3 linked regions of the Homo sapiens genome follow. The protein of the gene in region 1 purifies or fractionates together with the protein of each later gene. This does not show direct contact. Each region holds a gene or a part of one and is shown in the gene's direction. Other genes may lie near its edges.

Region 1 (5,336 bases):
ACATAAAAATTGTGTGTACTTAAAGTGTACAAGTGATATTTGGATATATGTTTACCTTGTGAAATGATTGAATCAAGCTAATTAACATGATCCATCATCTTACATACTATTTTATGTGTGTTGAGAATATTTAAAATCTGTTTTAGCAATTTTCAAATATATAATACATTAACTATAGTCATCATACTGTAAAATAGATCTTCAGGGCTTATTCATCCTATTTAATTGAATCTTTGTTCCATTTGACCAACACCCCTCCATCTTCCTCCCCCAAGCACCCTGGCAACCACCATTTTCTCTGCTACTATGAATTCAACCTTTTAAGATTCCACATATAAGTGGGATTATGCAGTATTTTTTTTTCTGTGCTTGGCTTATTTCACTTAGCATAGTGTTCTCCAGGTTCATCCATGTTGTTATAAACGACAAGATTTTCTTTTTTTAAGGCTGAATAATATTCAGTTGTGTGTGTGTATACCACATTTTCGTTATTCATCCATTGATGGACACTGAGGTTGATTCCATGTCTCGGCTATTGTGAATAATGTTTCAGTAAAAATGGGAATGCAGAGATCTCTTTGACATACTGATTTTATTTCCTTTGGATATATACCCAGAAGTGGGATTGCCGGATCATATGGTAGTTCTATTTTTAATTTTTTGAGAAATCTTTATACTGCTTTTTACAATGGCTGTACTAATTTACATTCCCACTCAACGGTGTTCAAGAGTTCCTCTTTCTCCATATCCTTGACAACACTTGTTATCTTTTGTCTTTTTGATAATAGCCATCCTTCCAAGTGTGAGGAGCTATCTCATTGTGGTTTTTCTTTTCATTTCCCTAATGATCAGTGATGTTGAACATTTTTTCATACATATATTGGTCATTTGTTTGTTGTTGAGAAATGTCAATTCAGGTTCTTTATCCATTTTTAAATCAGGTTTATATTACCCAAAGTGATCTACGGATTCAGCACAATCCATATCAAAATTCTAATGGCATTTTTCACAGAAATAGAAAACAAATCTTAAAATTTGTATGGAACATCAAAAGACCCTGAATAGCCAAAGCAATCTTATCTTGAGCAAAAGGAACAAAGCTGGAAGCTTCACACTACCTAATTTCAAAACCTACTACAAAGCTATCATAATCAAAACAGCGTGGTACTGGCATAACAGTAGACACATAAACCAATGGAACAGAATCCAGAGCTCAGAATTAAATCCATGCATTTACAGTTAATTTTCGACAAAGGTACCTAGAACACACAGTAAGGAAAGGACAGTTTTCTTCGTCAATAAGTGATACTGAGAAAACTGAATATCCACATGCAGAGAAATGAAATTAGATCCTTACTTCACACCATATAAAAAATCAGTTCAAAGTTGATTAAAGACTTAAAGCCTGAAACCATAAAACCACTAGAAGAAAACAGAGAAGTTCCATGACATTTGTCTGAGCAATGATTTTTTTTTAATGTGACCCCAAAGCACAGGCAACAAAAAGAAAAATAGACAAGTAGGATTGCATCAAACTAAAAAGCTTCTGCACAGCAAAAGGAACAGTCAGCAGAGTGAAGAGGCAACCAAGGGAATGGGAGAAAATATTTGTAAATCATATATCTGATAAGTGGTTGATATCCAAAACATAAGGAAGCAAAACAACTCTCAATAGCAAGAAAACAACTCAAAATTTTTAATTTTCATGAAATTCCATTTGTTTCATTCTTTTCTTTCCTTTTTTAAAATTAAACTAAAATTTTGTATAGAGATGGGGTCTCGTTATGTTGTCAAGGCTTGTCTTGAACTCCTGGGCCCAAGCAATGCTCCTACCTCAGCCTCCTAAAGTGCTGAGATTACAGGCATGAGCCACCATGCCCAGTCTTACATATTTATTTATTTTTATTACAAACAGGGCTTCGCTCTGTCATGTAGGCTAGAGTGCAGACATGATCCTAGCTCATTGTAGCCTCAAACTCCTGGTGGCCTTAAGCAGTCTTCTGCCTTTTATCTATTATTTTACTTGTGCTTTTCATGTTATATCTAAGAAACAGTTGTTTAATCCAAGGTAACAAAGATTTATTCCTAAGTGCATTTACTTTTTCCAAGAATACTACAGGTATAACATTCAGTGATCATTACTGACTTCTGAATTTTATCTGTGTGAAGTCCAGATACCCATATTTGACTCTAGACGCAAAATTACAACTGTCTCTAGGATATCATTTAAGCTAAAACATACTAACACATGACTTAACCAGAGTCATTTTCTGAAATTCTTCCTTTTGTTTTCTGTTGTTGGGATTTATTGCATTTCGGTGATGTGAATGGGTTTTAGATCACCTGGGTCATTAATTACCAAATAAGTAGTTTATACAGAAACCAGTACTAAAATTATTGGGTTTTCTCTTTTGATTTAAAGGAGTTGGAATTGTACAAAGAGGAACTTCAGACAAAACCTGCACTCTTGGCAGTTAATAAAATGGACTTGCCAGATGCCCAAGATAAGTTCCATGAATTGATGAGCCAGCTCCAGAATCCTAAAGGTAAACCTATTTATTCATTTAATTCTAATTTAAAGAATAATTACAATGTACAGAGAATGCTGTTATAATCAGTGGAAAACTGACAGTTTCTGCTCTTAAAAGTCAAGTTTGAAGAAAGAATATACAAAACATGTAAATAACATTGTAACATAATAATTACCAAATTCTAGAATGTTTGATATGGACAGTAAATTAAAGGAGACAAAAGAAAGATTAATTTGAACTAAAAAGGTCAGGCTACATGAAGAATAAAACTTAAATTGGGCCCATAAGGCATATGTGGGATTTGAATAAAAGGAGGAAAAAGTCAGCATCTACCTGTGAAGTCTTTCACTTTCATTAACATACTTCACAAGCTCTTCATTCGTCTAGTACTGTACATCATAAAATTAAAGACAGAACTAAGAAGTTCTAAAGAAGTATGTTTCTTGGCAAAAGTAACTCTATAGGTTTCTGAAGAGGATGAGTCTTCTGAAAAGAACTTCATTTTTCCTGTGTATGTGTGACACAATAATAGAAGCTGTGACTCCAAAATGATTTATTTGTCTGGAATTTACTTCCTGGACTATATGTAAAGTAACTTAAAGGGATTCTCCACAGTTTTGAATATTGACATTTGCAGAACACCTTCTATCCTATGGCAATGGTGGTTTCATTCAGAGTCTAGTAGAGAACCTCATGCACAAATGAGGAAAAGTAGGGTGTATGGTATGTGGCTAACATGTTTTTCAATATGTCTCTGTTTTTATTCTTGGTAACAATTGTTGGAAAATAGATTATAGGTACTAAGACTGTCAAACAGCACCAGAAGGTCCTTTCCTCTCAAAAATCTTTCCCCTGTGTAATCTACATGTTGGAGCTGTCCTTGAGTTAATAAATTACTCATGGGATATAAATATTCTCTGATACTAAATAGCCTTCATTCCTAATGACATTTGCTTTGTATGGTCATTAGTTCTTTTTGCTAGTTGATCTTGCAGAGAAGGGAATTTTCAGAGGAAATACCGAAAGTGAGGGTGACTCAGGAGTCTGTAGCTGTTCTGACCTATCGTGAAATAAAATATAGGCCCTTTAGTGATAATCCTGAGTTATCCTCTCTGGACTTTCTTCGGGGCTTTTGAATCTCAGAAAGTAAGCTCCATGTTGTCTTCTCCACCAATCTGTTTCAGTCCAGCCTTTCTAGTTCATATCAGTTAATCCATCTAATCAGTATGCCATCTCCCCAGCCAATCAGTATGCCATGGTGACAGGGAAGAGGTAAAAGTAATATAACAATTGTTAGCCCTTGTGGGGTGATAGATTGGACTCATCTGAAATTATCTTCCCTTGAATTCTCTATAATCCCTCTTCAGTTTTTGTATGGATCCTAGCATCATTGATGATAAACCTATACTTTGGGGAAGTTAAAGGTCTCCAGTGTACTGAGGCCAAGTAGAATGTCTCAAATCATAAATGATGTTATTATTTTTACAGAAAGTATCTTTCAGAGAATCAATGCTGCCTTGCCTTATTTAACCCCCCCCACACACACAAAATTTATTACTTCCTTAAGTAAGTCATTTTTGTGATTCATCTTCTACTCATACTTAGTTTGGTTTAAAATATATTTATCTAACAAGTATGTTATGTGCCAAGAACCTTACCATAATCAATGGTAAAATCCAAAGGCTCTGAGAACTTATTAGAAAAGGTGAAAAAAGGCATGAAAAATGCTGGTGTTGGTTCCCTGCTTCACAAATCAAACCATTAACATGGTTTTAACTAACTTTCGAAAACAATGGAAATCAGCTTTGTTTGTGCTCTTTCTTTTAGATTTTCTGCATTTATTTGAAAAAAACATGATTCCAGAGAGGACTGTAGAGTTCCAACATATCATCCCCATATCTGCAGTTACTGGAGAAGGAATCGAAGAATTAAAGAATTGTATAAGAAAGTCACTGGATGAACAGGCCAACCAGGAAAATGATGCACTTCATAAGAAACAGTTGCTTAATTTGTGGATTTCTGATACAATGTCTTCTACTGAGCCACCATCAAAGCATGCTGTTACTACTTCCAAAATGGATATAATTTAAATATATTAAAAATGGTATTGATGGAACAGTATTTAATGCTTAAAAACAAGGAAATCCTTTCATCTGTGACAACCTGGAGGACATGTTAAGTAAAATAAGCCAGGCTTAGAAAGACAAATGCTGCATAATCTCACTGTGGAATCTTAAGTTGAACTCATAGAAGGAGAGAATAGAATGGTGGTTATCAAGGGCTGGTGGGGCAGTGGAGGATTGAGGAGATATTGGTCAAAATTTACAAAATTTCAGTTAGACAAGGCAACTGAGTTCAAGAGATCTGTTGTACAGCTTGGTGACTGTAATTAACAACAATGTATTTTGAAAGTCACTGAGTAAATTTTAAGTGGTTTTTCCAAAAAAGCACATAAGGTAATGCACGTTAATTAGCTATATTGAGCCATTCCACAATGTATAGATATTTCAAAACATGTTACACATGATAAATCCAGTTTTTCTACGTCATTTTTTAAAATTATATTTAATTTTTTTATTTTGAAAGTTTTTTCACAGATCTTTTTTTTAGTATTATTACCTTCTGATATATGTGTCATTATTGAAGAACCATACCTTTTAAAGTTATTATTTTGTAATTAAGTATGTCAACAGTAAAAAATAACCAGTGGCCAGGCATGGTGGCTCATGCCTGTAATCCCAGCACTTTTCGGAGGCCGAGGAGGGCAGATCACTTGAGGTCAGGAGTTCAAGACCAGCCTGGCCA
Region 2 (5,336 bases), on another chromosome or scaffold:
CAGGAGCTGCTTCCACAGCCTCATCCCTCCCCTTGGTCCCCGCTCTGTGTCAAGGTCAGCAGCATCCTTCCAGTCCCCAACTCAGAAGCCTTGGCAGGGTCTGATTCCTTCCCTTTCTTTGTTCCTGTCTCTGGCCTCTTGGCAAGTTCTTCCTGTTCCTCTACCAGACGTCTCTGCCCTGATGTCTGTATGACACTTCCCCATCCCCAGCCGTCACGTGCCCCAGCTCACCCTTCACAGTGGCTGTGCTGCATCATCTGTGACGCTGCTCGGCTCCTGAGGCCACGTGTGAATTGGCGCGGTTCTCCCCAGCTGCCCACAGCGCACCTTGGTAATCCGTGTCCCGTCCACCCTGTCCTCTCTGCCCTCCTCTCGTGCTTGCGGCTGCAGCATTGCCGAGCACCTTGTCCCGTTGCTTTGTGTGTGCCCTTCTTCCAGGGCATGATCCGTAGGGTCACATGTGTGGCTGCAGTCCGTGTCTCTTTGTGCATGCCCAACACGAACGCCACTGTGCTGCCAACTCAGAAAGCAGCTCTTCTTGGTGACTGTGGGCCGCCTGGAACAGGAATAAAGTCCTCTCGACGGAGTCTCCTTGGTGATGCTCAGCTGGCAGCTTTCTAGTTAATTTCCTCTTATTTCGTATTGGCTGGCTACATTTCCTTCCGGTCTTTTAAACTAATGCCTGATGACCAAAAAGGTGCATTACTGGAATTAGTTTATCCACAGCAGTTGAAAATAATTTCCTTTCCTTGGTGAACAAATGAGCCTGCGTGGTATGCATGTTTTTTGTTACGGATAAATTTTCATTGAGAAGATTGGTTTGGTTGCCTTCAGACTTGTCTCATTGCCTATAACTCAGCAATGCTGTGTACACAGCTCCCCTCCCCCATTTTTTCTTCTTCTAAAATGCATATGTACAGTTTGCCGTCTTAACCATTTTTAAGTGTACAGTTGGGGACTATTAAGAACATTCATATTGTTGTGCAACCATTGCCACATCCGTCTTCAGAACTCTTTTCATCTTGCAGACATGAAAATCTGTACCCATTAAACACTGACTTCGCACCCTCTGCCCCAGCTCCTGGTCACCACCATTCTGCCTTCTGTCTCTGTGAATTGGATGACTCTGAAGACCTCATAGAAGTGGCATCACACATTATCTGTCTTTCTGTGACATGCTTATTTCACTCAGCATGATGTCCTCAGGGGTCTTCTATGCTGTGGTATTGTAGAATTTCCTTCACTTTTAAGGCTGAATAATATTCCATTGTATGGATGGACCACATTTTGCTTATCCGTTTGTCTGTTGGTGGACATTTGAATTGCTTCCACGTTTTAGCTATTGTGAATAATGCTGTAGTGAACATGGGTGTACAGATGTTTTACTTTTATTTCTTTCTGGTATATACACACAAGTGTAATTGCTGGACCATGTGGTAATTTATGTTTAAATCTTTGAGCAGCTGCCAGACTGTTTCCTCCGGTGGCTGCAGCATTTTCCACCATGAGTGTGTGAGGTTTCTGATTCGTCTGCATTTTCATTCTTCTCTTAGGTTTTTAAAAATATCCCTTATGGCTGGGTGCGGTGGCTCACGCCCGTCATCCCAGCACTTTGGAAGGCTGAGGCAGGCGGATCACCTGAGGTCAGGAGTTTGAGACCAGCCCGGCCAACATGGTGAAACCCCGTCTCTACTAAAAATATAAAAATTAGCCGGGCGTGGTGGCAGGCGCCTGTAATCCCAGCTACTCAGGAGGCTGAGGCAGGAGAATCACTTGAACCCAGGAGGCAGAGGTCACAGTGAGCCGAGATCGCACCACTGCACTCCAGCCAGGGGGACAAGAGCGAGACTTCATCTGAAAAACAAAACAAAACAAAACAAAAGTCCCTTATGTTTCCTTTTTTGCCCCATTAATTGTTTAAGAGTATGTTGTTTAATTTCCACAAATTGGTGAATTTTACAGTTTTCCTTCTGATACTGATTTCTAATGTCATCTGTTGAGTTTGGAGAAGATACTTTGTATGATATTTATCTTTTAAAAACCTGAGTCTTAATTTGAGGCCTAATCCATGGTCTTTCCTGAAGACTGTCCCATGTGCACGTGAGAATAGTGTGTGTTCTGTTGTTGGGTGTTCTTTCTGTGTCTGTTCAGTCTGGTTGGTTGGTTGCATTGTTCAAGTCCTCTCTTTCCTTGTTTAGCTTCTGTCTGCTTGTTCTGTCCATTATTGAGAGAGAGATATTGAAGCCTCCGACTATTACAGAACTGAATGTTTTTCCCTTCAGTTCTATCCATTTTTGCTTCATGTATTTTGACGGTCTGTTAGTAAATGCAGAAATATTTATAATTGTTACATCTTCTTGCTGAACCTTCTATTAATACATATGGCCTTCTTTGTGACTAGTTTTTTTTTTTTTAATTTAAAGTATATTTCATATTTATTAGTATAACCACTCCTGTTCTCTTTTGGTTATTATTTATATGGAATATCTTTTTCCACCCTTTTACTTTCAACCTATTTGTGTCTTGGGCTCTAAGGTCAGTCTCTGGTGAACACATAGAGTTGAATCATGTTTTATTTTTTAAATCTATTTTGTCTACCTCTTTTGATTGAAGATTTTAATTAATTTTGCCTACCTCTTTTGATGGAAGAGCTTACATTTAAGTGATTACTGATAAGAAGGGACTTCTGTCATTTTGCTGTTTGTTTTCTATATGCGGTATAACATTTTTGTCTCTTATTTCTGCATTTTTTTTGTGCTTTTGATTATTTTGGTAGTAAACATTTTAATTCCCTTGTTTCTTTTGCGTATATTCTATAGCTGTTTTCTTTGTGCCTACCATAAAGATTACACTTAACATCTAACATTATCTCGCTTCAGTTTGAATTTATATCAACTTAACTTCAATAACACACAAAAACCGTCCCTATATGGCTTCATCTCCACTCCCTTTGGGTTGTTCATTTCACAAAATTACATCTTTATATATCATGTGTCCAAAATCATAGACTAATAATTGTTTTTTAATGCATTCATTTTTAAAAATTAGGTAGAAAACAATGTGGAGTTAGAATCCAAAGTTACAGTATTAGTAGCTTTTAGACTATTTTTTAATGTATTAGTTTCTTTTTTATTTGTCCCTTTTAACCAGAACAAATATTAGTCTCTTAAGTCATGTACGAAACAGAGTGATGAGTTAAAAACTGAAGTGTTAATGATACTAGATTTTACGATTGTCCATGAATTTACCTTTTTTGAGGCCTTTGCTTCTTCACGTGGCTTCCAGTTGCTCTCTAGCATTCTTTCTTCTCAACCAGTGGGACTCTATTTAAGCATTTCTTGCAGGGCAGATCTTGTGGTAACAAGCTTTTCAGCTTTTGTTTATCTGGGGATGTCTTAATATCGCTCTCACTTTTGAATGACCATTTTGCTAGATTTAAGGTTCTTGGTTGACAGTATTTTTCTTTTAGCACTTTGAATATGTCATCCCACTGCCTCTGGCCTCCAAAGTTTCTGGTGAGAAATCTGATCTGCTCATAATCTTATTTTGGAGCCCTTGTTTCTGACAAGTTGCTGCTTTCAGAATTCTTTCAAAAGTTTGATTAAGTTGTATCTTAGTGTGGACCTCTGAGTTCCTCTTGCTTGGAGGTCATTGAGCTTCTTGGATCTTCATATTCATGTCTTTCATCAAATGTGGGGAGTTTTCACCTATTATTTCTTCAAATAATGTCTTGCCCATTTCTCTCTTCTCCTTCTAAAAGTCCCACTAAGCATATGTTGGCCTGCTTGATGATGTCCACAAGGTCCCTGAGGCTCTGTTCACTTTTCTTCAATCTTTTTTCTTTCTGTTCCGGATACTTGATATTTCCCATTGTCCTGTCTTCACATTCACTGATTCTTTCTTGCGCCTGTGCAGATCTGCCTTTGAATCCCTTTAGTGAATTTTTCATTTCATTTATTGTACTTTTCAGCTTCATATTTTCTGTTTGGTTTCCTTTTGGATTTTCTGTCTCATTATTGGTATTTCCATTTTGCTCATACATGTCTTTCTTCACATCTTTAAGTTCCTTAGGCATCTTTAAATCGTTGTTTTAAAGTCTTTCTCTAGTAGATCTGCCATCAGATCTTTTACAGGAACAGTTTCTTATGTTTTCCTTTGAATGGGCCATACTTTCTTCTTTCTTTGGGTGCCTTGTGATGTTTTTGTTGTTGAAAAATGGACACTTGAATCGAATAATGTGATAACTCTGGAAATCAGATCCCCTTCCCAGGTTGATGATTCTTGTTTTTGGTTGTTGTAGGCTCTCTGTGCCAAGGCACAGCCTGAGGTGTGAACTTCAAGGTCGTGTCAAGTCTTTTCTGAGCCTATGCCTTTGCCTGGGCATGCATTGGCCACTTCCGAATTTTTCCTATAAATGCAGTTACTTTTGAATGTCTTCATTCATAAATATCTGGCTTTCAAGAAGGGGAACAGATGAAGGGGGTGGTGAAGACATTGGCCCTTTAAATTCCCTGGAGCTCTGTGGGGGTGAGGAGGGACCTGTGAACAGGGGAAGATGCAACAGTGGCCACTTACCTCTTCGCACCTCTGTGGTCAGAAGCAGCAGTCAGTGATCTGAGTACAGATCTCCGGTGTGGAGGACAGGGTTCTTTTTGCCCAGCCAGGCTGCAGGCTGTGTGCAGGCAGCTTTAGGAACACATCAGCACATGCACAGCTGCCTGCGGGGTGGGAGGTGGGGCCTCGGTAGCCACTGCCCAGCTGAGAGCTGCAAATGACCACAGTTAACCACAGTTTACCATTTATGCCTTTAATAGACTCCAGAGTTCCAAAGATAGTTACCTCAGACACATCCTGCCATTGCAGTTGTTGTTAGCTAGGGAGATGTGGCTTCCTGCTCTGCCGTGTTCCCAGAACACCGCATGCAGGCAGCCTTTTATGTGGTGGTGGTTGTTTATGTTGTGTCTTGTGCCTTCTCCCTAGTGCCTGAGATTGTGAGGGAGACCCAGGACCTAATTGAACAAGGGGCACTCCTGCAAGCCCACCGGAAGCTGATGGACCTGGAGTGCTCCCGGGACGGGCTGATGTACGAGCAGTACCGCATGGACAGTGGGAACACGCGTGACATGACCCTCATCCATGGCTACTTTGGCAGCACGCAGGGGCTCTCTGATGAGCTGGCTAAGCAGCTGTGGATGGTGCTGCAGAGGTCACTGGTCACTGTCCGCCGTGACCCCACCTTGCTGGTCTCAGTTGTCAGGATCATTGAAAGGGAAGAGAAAATTGACAGGCGCATACTTGACCGGAAAAAGCAAACTGGCTTTGTTCCTCCTGGGAGG
Region 3 (5,336 bases), on another chromosome or scaffold:
GTCTCCCTTTCTACTTTTCACTGATATCTTTGTTACTTTGCATTTCTGTAGTACAGTCATGCATTGCTTACTGATGGGGATATGTTCTGAGAAATGCATTGTTAGGCAATTTCATTGTTACGTGAACATCATAGAGTGTCACTTACGCAAACCTAGATGGTGTAGCCTACTACACACCCAGACTTTATGGTATAGCCTATTGCTCCCAGGCTGCAAACGTATACAGCATATTACTGTAGTGAATACTATAGGCAATTGTAACACAATGGTCAATATTTATGTATCTAAACGTATTTAAACATAGAAAAGGCACAATAAAAATGTGCTATAAAAGATAAAATGTAATATACCTGTATAGGGTACTTAACCAAAAATGGAGCTTATAGGACTGGAAGTTGCCCTGGGTGAGTCAGTGAGTGTAAAGGCCTAGTACATTACTGTACACTGCTGTATACTTTATAAACAAACACTGTATGCTTAGGCTACACCAAATTTTTAAAAAAATATTTTTCTTTCTTTAATAATAAATTAACCTTAGGTTACTGTCACTTTTAAACTTAATAAACTTAAAAAAAATTTAATACTTTTTTACTCTTTTGTAATAACACTTAGCTTAAAATATCGTGTACAGCTATACAAAAATATTTTCTTTATATCCTTATTCTATAAGCTTTTTTGTATTAAAATTTTTGTTTGCACTTTTTAAACTTTTTTTGTGAGAACTAAGACACAAACACAGTCTAGGCCCACACAGGGTCAGGATGATCAATATTACTGTCTTCTACCTCCACATTTTGTCCCACTGGAAGGTCTTCAGGTACAGTAACATGCCTGGAGCTGTCATCTCCTATGATAACAGTGTCTTCTTCTGGAATACCTCCTGAGGGGCTTGCCTGAGGCTGTTTTACAATTGACTTTTTTTTAACAAGTAGGAGTACGCTCTAAAATAATGATAAAAAGTATATAGTATAGTAAATGCATAAACCAGTTGCCTAGTCATTTATTATTATTTTTATTATTTAATTATTTTGGTTGAGACGGGGTCTCACTACATGTTACTCTGGCTGGTTTTGAACTCCTGAGCTCAAGCCTCACAAAGTGCTGGAATTACAGCCATGAGCCACTGTAGCCTGCCGTTATTTATTATTATTATCAAGTATTATGTGCTATACATAATTGTATGTGCTATACTTTTATACAGCTGGCAGTGCAGTTGGTTTGTTTACATTGGCACCACCACAAACATGTAAGCAATGCATTGCACTATGGCGTTCTGCACCATCACTAGGTGACAGGAATTTTTTTAGCTTCATGATAATCTTATGGTACCACTGTAGTATACACTGTCCTTCATCACTGTACATTGTTGACTAAAACATTGTTATTTCAGGCAGAATCTTGCCCTGTCACCCAGGGTGGAATGCGGTGGCATGATCTTGGCTCACTGAAACCTCTGCCTACTGGGTTCAAACGATTCTTCTGCCTCAGCCTCCCGAGTAGCTGAGGTTACAGGCATGCACCACAACACCTGGCTAATTTTTTGTATTTTCAGTAGAGACAGAGTTTCAACATGTTGGCCAGGCTGGTCATGAACTCTTGACCTCATGTGATCCGCTCACCATGGCCTCCCAAAGTGCTGGGATTACAGGCATGAGTCACTGCGCCCGGCCTCAAAACATTCTTATGCAGCCCATGACTTTACTTAATTGTGCCACCTCCATTGCTTTTTAAAAAACACACACACACACACACATATATATATATATATATATATATATATATATATATATATATATATATAAACAGAGATGGGGGGTCTTACCATGGTGCCTAGGCTGGTCTCAACCTCCTAGGCTCAAGCATTCCTTTGCCACTTTGACCTTCCTAAGTGCTGGGATTACAGGTGTGAGCCACTGCACGTGGCCCACATTGCCTTTTTTTTTTTTTTTAATTGACACAGGGTCTGTCTGTGTCACCAAGACTGGAATGCAGTGGCGTGATCTTGGCTCACTGCAGCCTCAGCTTCCCAGGCTTAAGTGATCCTCCCATTTCAGCCTCCTGAGTAGCCGGGACTGCAGGTGTGAGCTACCATGCCTGGCTAATTTTTTGTATTTTTTGTAGAGACAGCGTCTCCAACTCCTGAGCTCAAAGTGATCTGCCTGTCTCAGTCTCCCAAAGTGCTAGGATTAACACATGTGAGCCACCGCACCTGGCCACATTGCCTTTTAAAGAGGTCTTGTTTCATGTGCATAAACTAGATATAAATATATGCTATAATATTTAATACAGTGGTAGAATGTAGTTGTCACTAATAGCGTATGAATGTAAAGAAAATATGTTTGAATTGTTTCTTACTGGTTGTAAATTCAGATTTTCATTGTATTATAATACATACATATTGTTATTTTAAAGCAAGGCAGTGTTACAATCTTGTTACATATATATTATTATTGAATATGTTACTTTCATTATGATAGCGTTATATAGTATTGAATGTTACAATCTTTGTTACATACCTTAATATCACTTAATATTTAAAATATAGGTAACTTGACCCTCCAAGATAGTGATTCCTTTTGTTTTCCGTTTTGTTTTGTTTTGAGACAGGGTCTCACTCTTGCTCAGGCAGGAGGGTACTGTGCAGTCATGGCTCACTGCAGCCTTGAACTCCTGGGCTCAAAAGATCATCCTGCCTCAGACCCCAAGTAGCTGGGACTGCAGCCATGCACCACCACACCTGGCTAATTTATTTTTTGTTTTTAAATTTTTTGTAGAGATGAGGTTTTTAAATTTTTTGTAGAGATGTTGCCCAGGCTGGTCTCAAACTCCTGGGCTCAAGTGGTTCTGCCACCTTGACCTCTGAAAGTGCTGGGATTACAGATGTGAGCCACATAGCTGGCCAAGACACTGATTCTTAAAGTCTTTAGTGAGTCACTATTACTGGTGGAATATGTTGTATATCATTCATGTGTGTTGAGGAGATAAGATTTTTAGTAATCATTAACTTTGGGGGAAAGCTATTTAAATTACAATAAAGCACTGTTTGGTGGCATTTTAGTCACCTGAAATGAAAATGTTGAAAATTTTTCTGCTTCCATTGGATGTAAGAAATGTCATTTTCTTTCTTTTTTCTTTTTGAGACAGTCTTGCTCTTTCGCCCAGGCTGGAGTGCAATGGTGCAATCTTGGCTCACTGCAACCTCTGCCTCCTGGGCTACAGCGATTCTCCTTCCTCAGCCTCCTGAGTAGCTGGGATTACAGGTGTGCGCTACCGCACCAAGCTAATTTTTAAGTAGAGATGGGGTTTCACCATGTTGGCCAGGCTAGTCTTGAACTCCTGACCTCAGGTGATCCACCTGCCTTGGCCTCCCAAAGTGCTGGGATTACAGGCGTGAGCCACCGCACCCGGCCAAAAAATGTCATTTTCAATGAAAAGTTTTTAATTATTTCTCATCTTAATGATATAAAAGGTAAATGGTAAACTTTTAAGTTAAAAAATAATAATAGGCATAATTTATACCTTTGAGAAACAGAAACTAAAGTAATAAGTACTTTATTACTGCAGAAAATAAGAACATTAAATGAGGGCTTTCTTTTTTTCTTTTTTTTTTATTTGTAGTAGAGACACGGTCTCGCTGTGTTGCCCAGGCTGGTCTTGAACTCTTGAACTGAAGTGATCCTCCCACCTTGGCCTCCCAAAGTGCTGGAATTACAGGCATGAGCCACCACACCCGGCCTTTCTATTTTTCTTTCTCTTTTTTGAGACAGGGTTTCACTCTGTCACCCAGGCTGGAGCACAGTAGTGTGATCACAGGTAGCCTCGACCTCCTGGTCTCAAGTGATCCTCCCACTTCAGCCTCTTGAGTAGCTGGGACTGCAGGTGCATGCCATCACACCTAGATAGTTTTTAAATTTTTTTTGTCTGACCATGTTGTCCAAGCTGGTCCCATGCTTTGGAACTCCTGGGCTCAAGTGATTCTCCTGCCTTGGTTTCCCAAAGTGCTGGGATTACAGGCATGAGCCACTCACTGCACCTGGCCTAAATAAGAACTTTATTATTGGAAAAGAAACCTAAAATTTGCTGTGAGAAGAAAAATATTTCTGACTAATGAATAATGCACTAAGTGAAACTTTGTTTTGATAACTTATTTGCCCACCCTAAAGTACTATAGTGAATTACTGAATATGGTAATTGTTTTATTGTGATCTCAAACAAATGCTGGCTAACATTCCCACATCTTCATGATGTTTGTTACTGATTATTTTGTAGCCTATCCCTCGGCCAGATCCTGTGCATAATAATGAAGAAACACATGATCAAGTGCTGAAAACCAGATTGGAAGAAAAAGTTGAACACCTTGAGGAAGGACCTATGATAGAACAACTTAGCAAAATGTTCTTTACTACTAAGCACCGTTGGTATCCTCATGGACGGTAAGTTTTCTTTTCTTTTCTTCAATCCCTACTACATACAGTAAAGGAACACATGGATTTTCTTGCAATAACAAACTTCTGAAGTGGTGTTTTGCATGAGGAAATTAACCCTAAGTAGAATCACCTACTATGTTGTACTTTTTTTTTCTTTTCTGAGACAGGATCTCGCTCTGTCACCCAGGCTGGAGTGCAGTGCCACAATCTCAGCTCACTGCAGCCTCAACCTCCAGTGCTCAAGTGATCTTCGCACTTTAGCCTTCCGAGTAGCTAGTACTACAGGCATGTGCCACCACACCTGGCTAATTTTGTTCTTTTTTTTTTTTTTTGAGACAAAGAGTCTTGCTCTGTCACCCAGGCTGGAGTGCAGTGGCGAGATCTCGTTTCACTGCAACCTCCACCTCCCAGGTTCAAGCGATTCTCCTGCCTCAGCCTCCTGAGTAGCTGGGACTACAGGCGCATGCCACTATGCCCAGCTAATTTTTTGTATTTTCATTAGAGGCGGGGTTTTACCGTGTTAGCCAGGATGGTCTCGAACTCCTGACCTTGTGATCCACCCACCTTGGCCTCCCAAAGTGCTGGGATTACAGGCGTGAGCCACCGAGCCTGGCTCTTTTTTCTTCTTTTGTAGAGGCAAGGTCTCACTCACTGTGTTGCGCAGGCTGATTTTAAACTCCTGGACTCAAGTGATCCTCCTCCCTCAGCTGGGATTGTAAGAATGAGCCACTGCCACTGTACTTTTAAATTTACATATAATTTAGCTAAAATGAAATAGTACTTCTTTTTTTCTTTATTTTAATGGGGGAATTTAACCAGAGCTTTCAGTGAATTTTGTAAGAGTTCTTGAAAATTTTTACATTCTATGATGTATTCATTTAATATGTTGTTTTTGTTCATTTTCCTGTT

The links. Proteins that work in one complex are often made in the same cells at the same time.
Region 2: the proteins of GTPBP10 (region 1) and EXOC3 fractionate together in Homo sapiens (co-fractionation; one large-scale study listed by BioGRID). This does not show direct contact.
Region 3: the proteins of GTPBP10 (region 1) and MRPL42 purify together in Homo sapiens (co-immunoprecipitation; one large-scale study listed by IntAct). This does not show direct contact.

What each region holds. Positions count from the first base shown.
Region 1 is NC_000007.14:90,380,534-90,385,869, forward strand, and holds part of GTPBP10 (GTP-binding protein 10), read left to right. Parts: intron 1-2,422; coding exon 2,423-2,546; intron 2,547-4,358; coding exon 4,359-4,621; 3' UTR 4,622-5,336. UniProt on the Homo sapiens protein: May be involved in the ribosome maturation process. Complements an ObgE(CgtA) function in E.coli ribosome maturation. Plays a role of GTPase in vitro. When missing, disorganization of the nucleolar architecture is observed.
Region 2 is NC_000005.10:448,390-453,725, forward strand, and holds part of EXOC3 (exocyst complex component 3), read left to right. Parts: intron 1-4,980; coding exon 4,981-5,336. UniProt on the Homo sapiens protein: Component of the exocyst complex involved in the docking of exocytic vesicles with fusion sites on the plasma membrane.
Region 3 is NC_000012.12:93,483,228-93,488,563, forward strand, and holds part of MRPL42 (large ribosomal subunit protein mL42 precursor), read left to right. Parts: intron 1-4,269; coding exon 4,270-4,433; intron 4,434-5,336.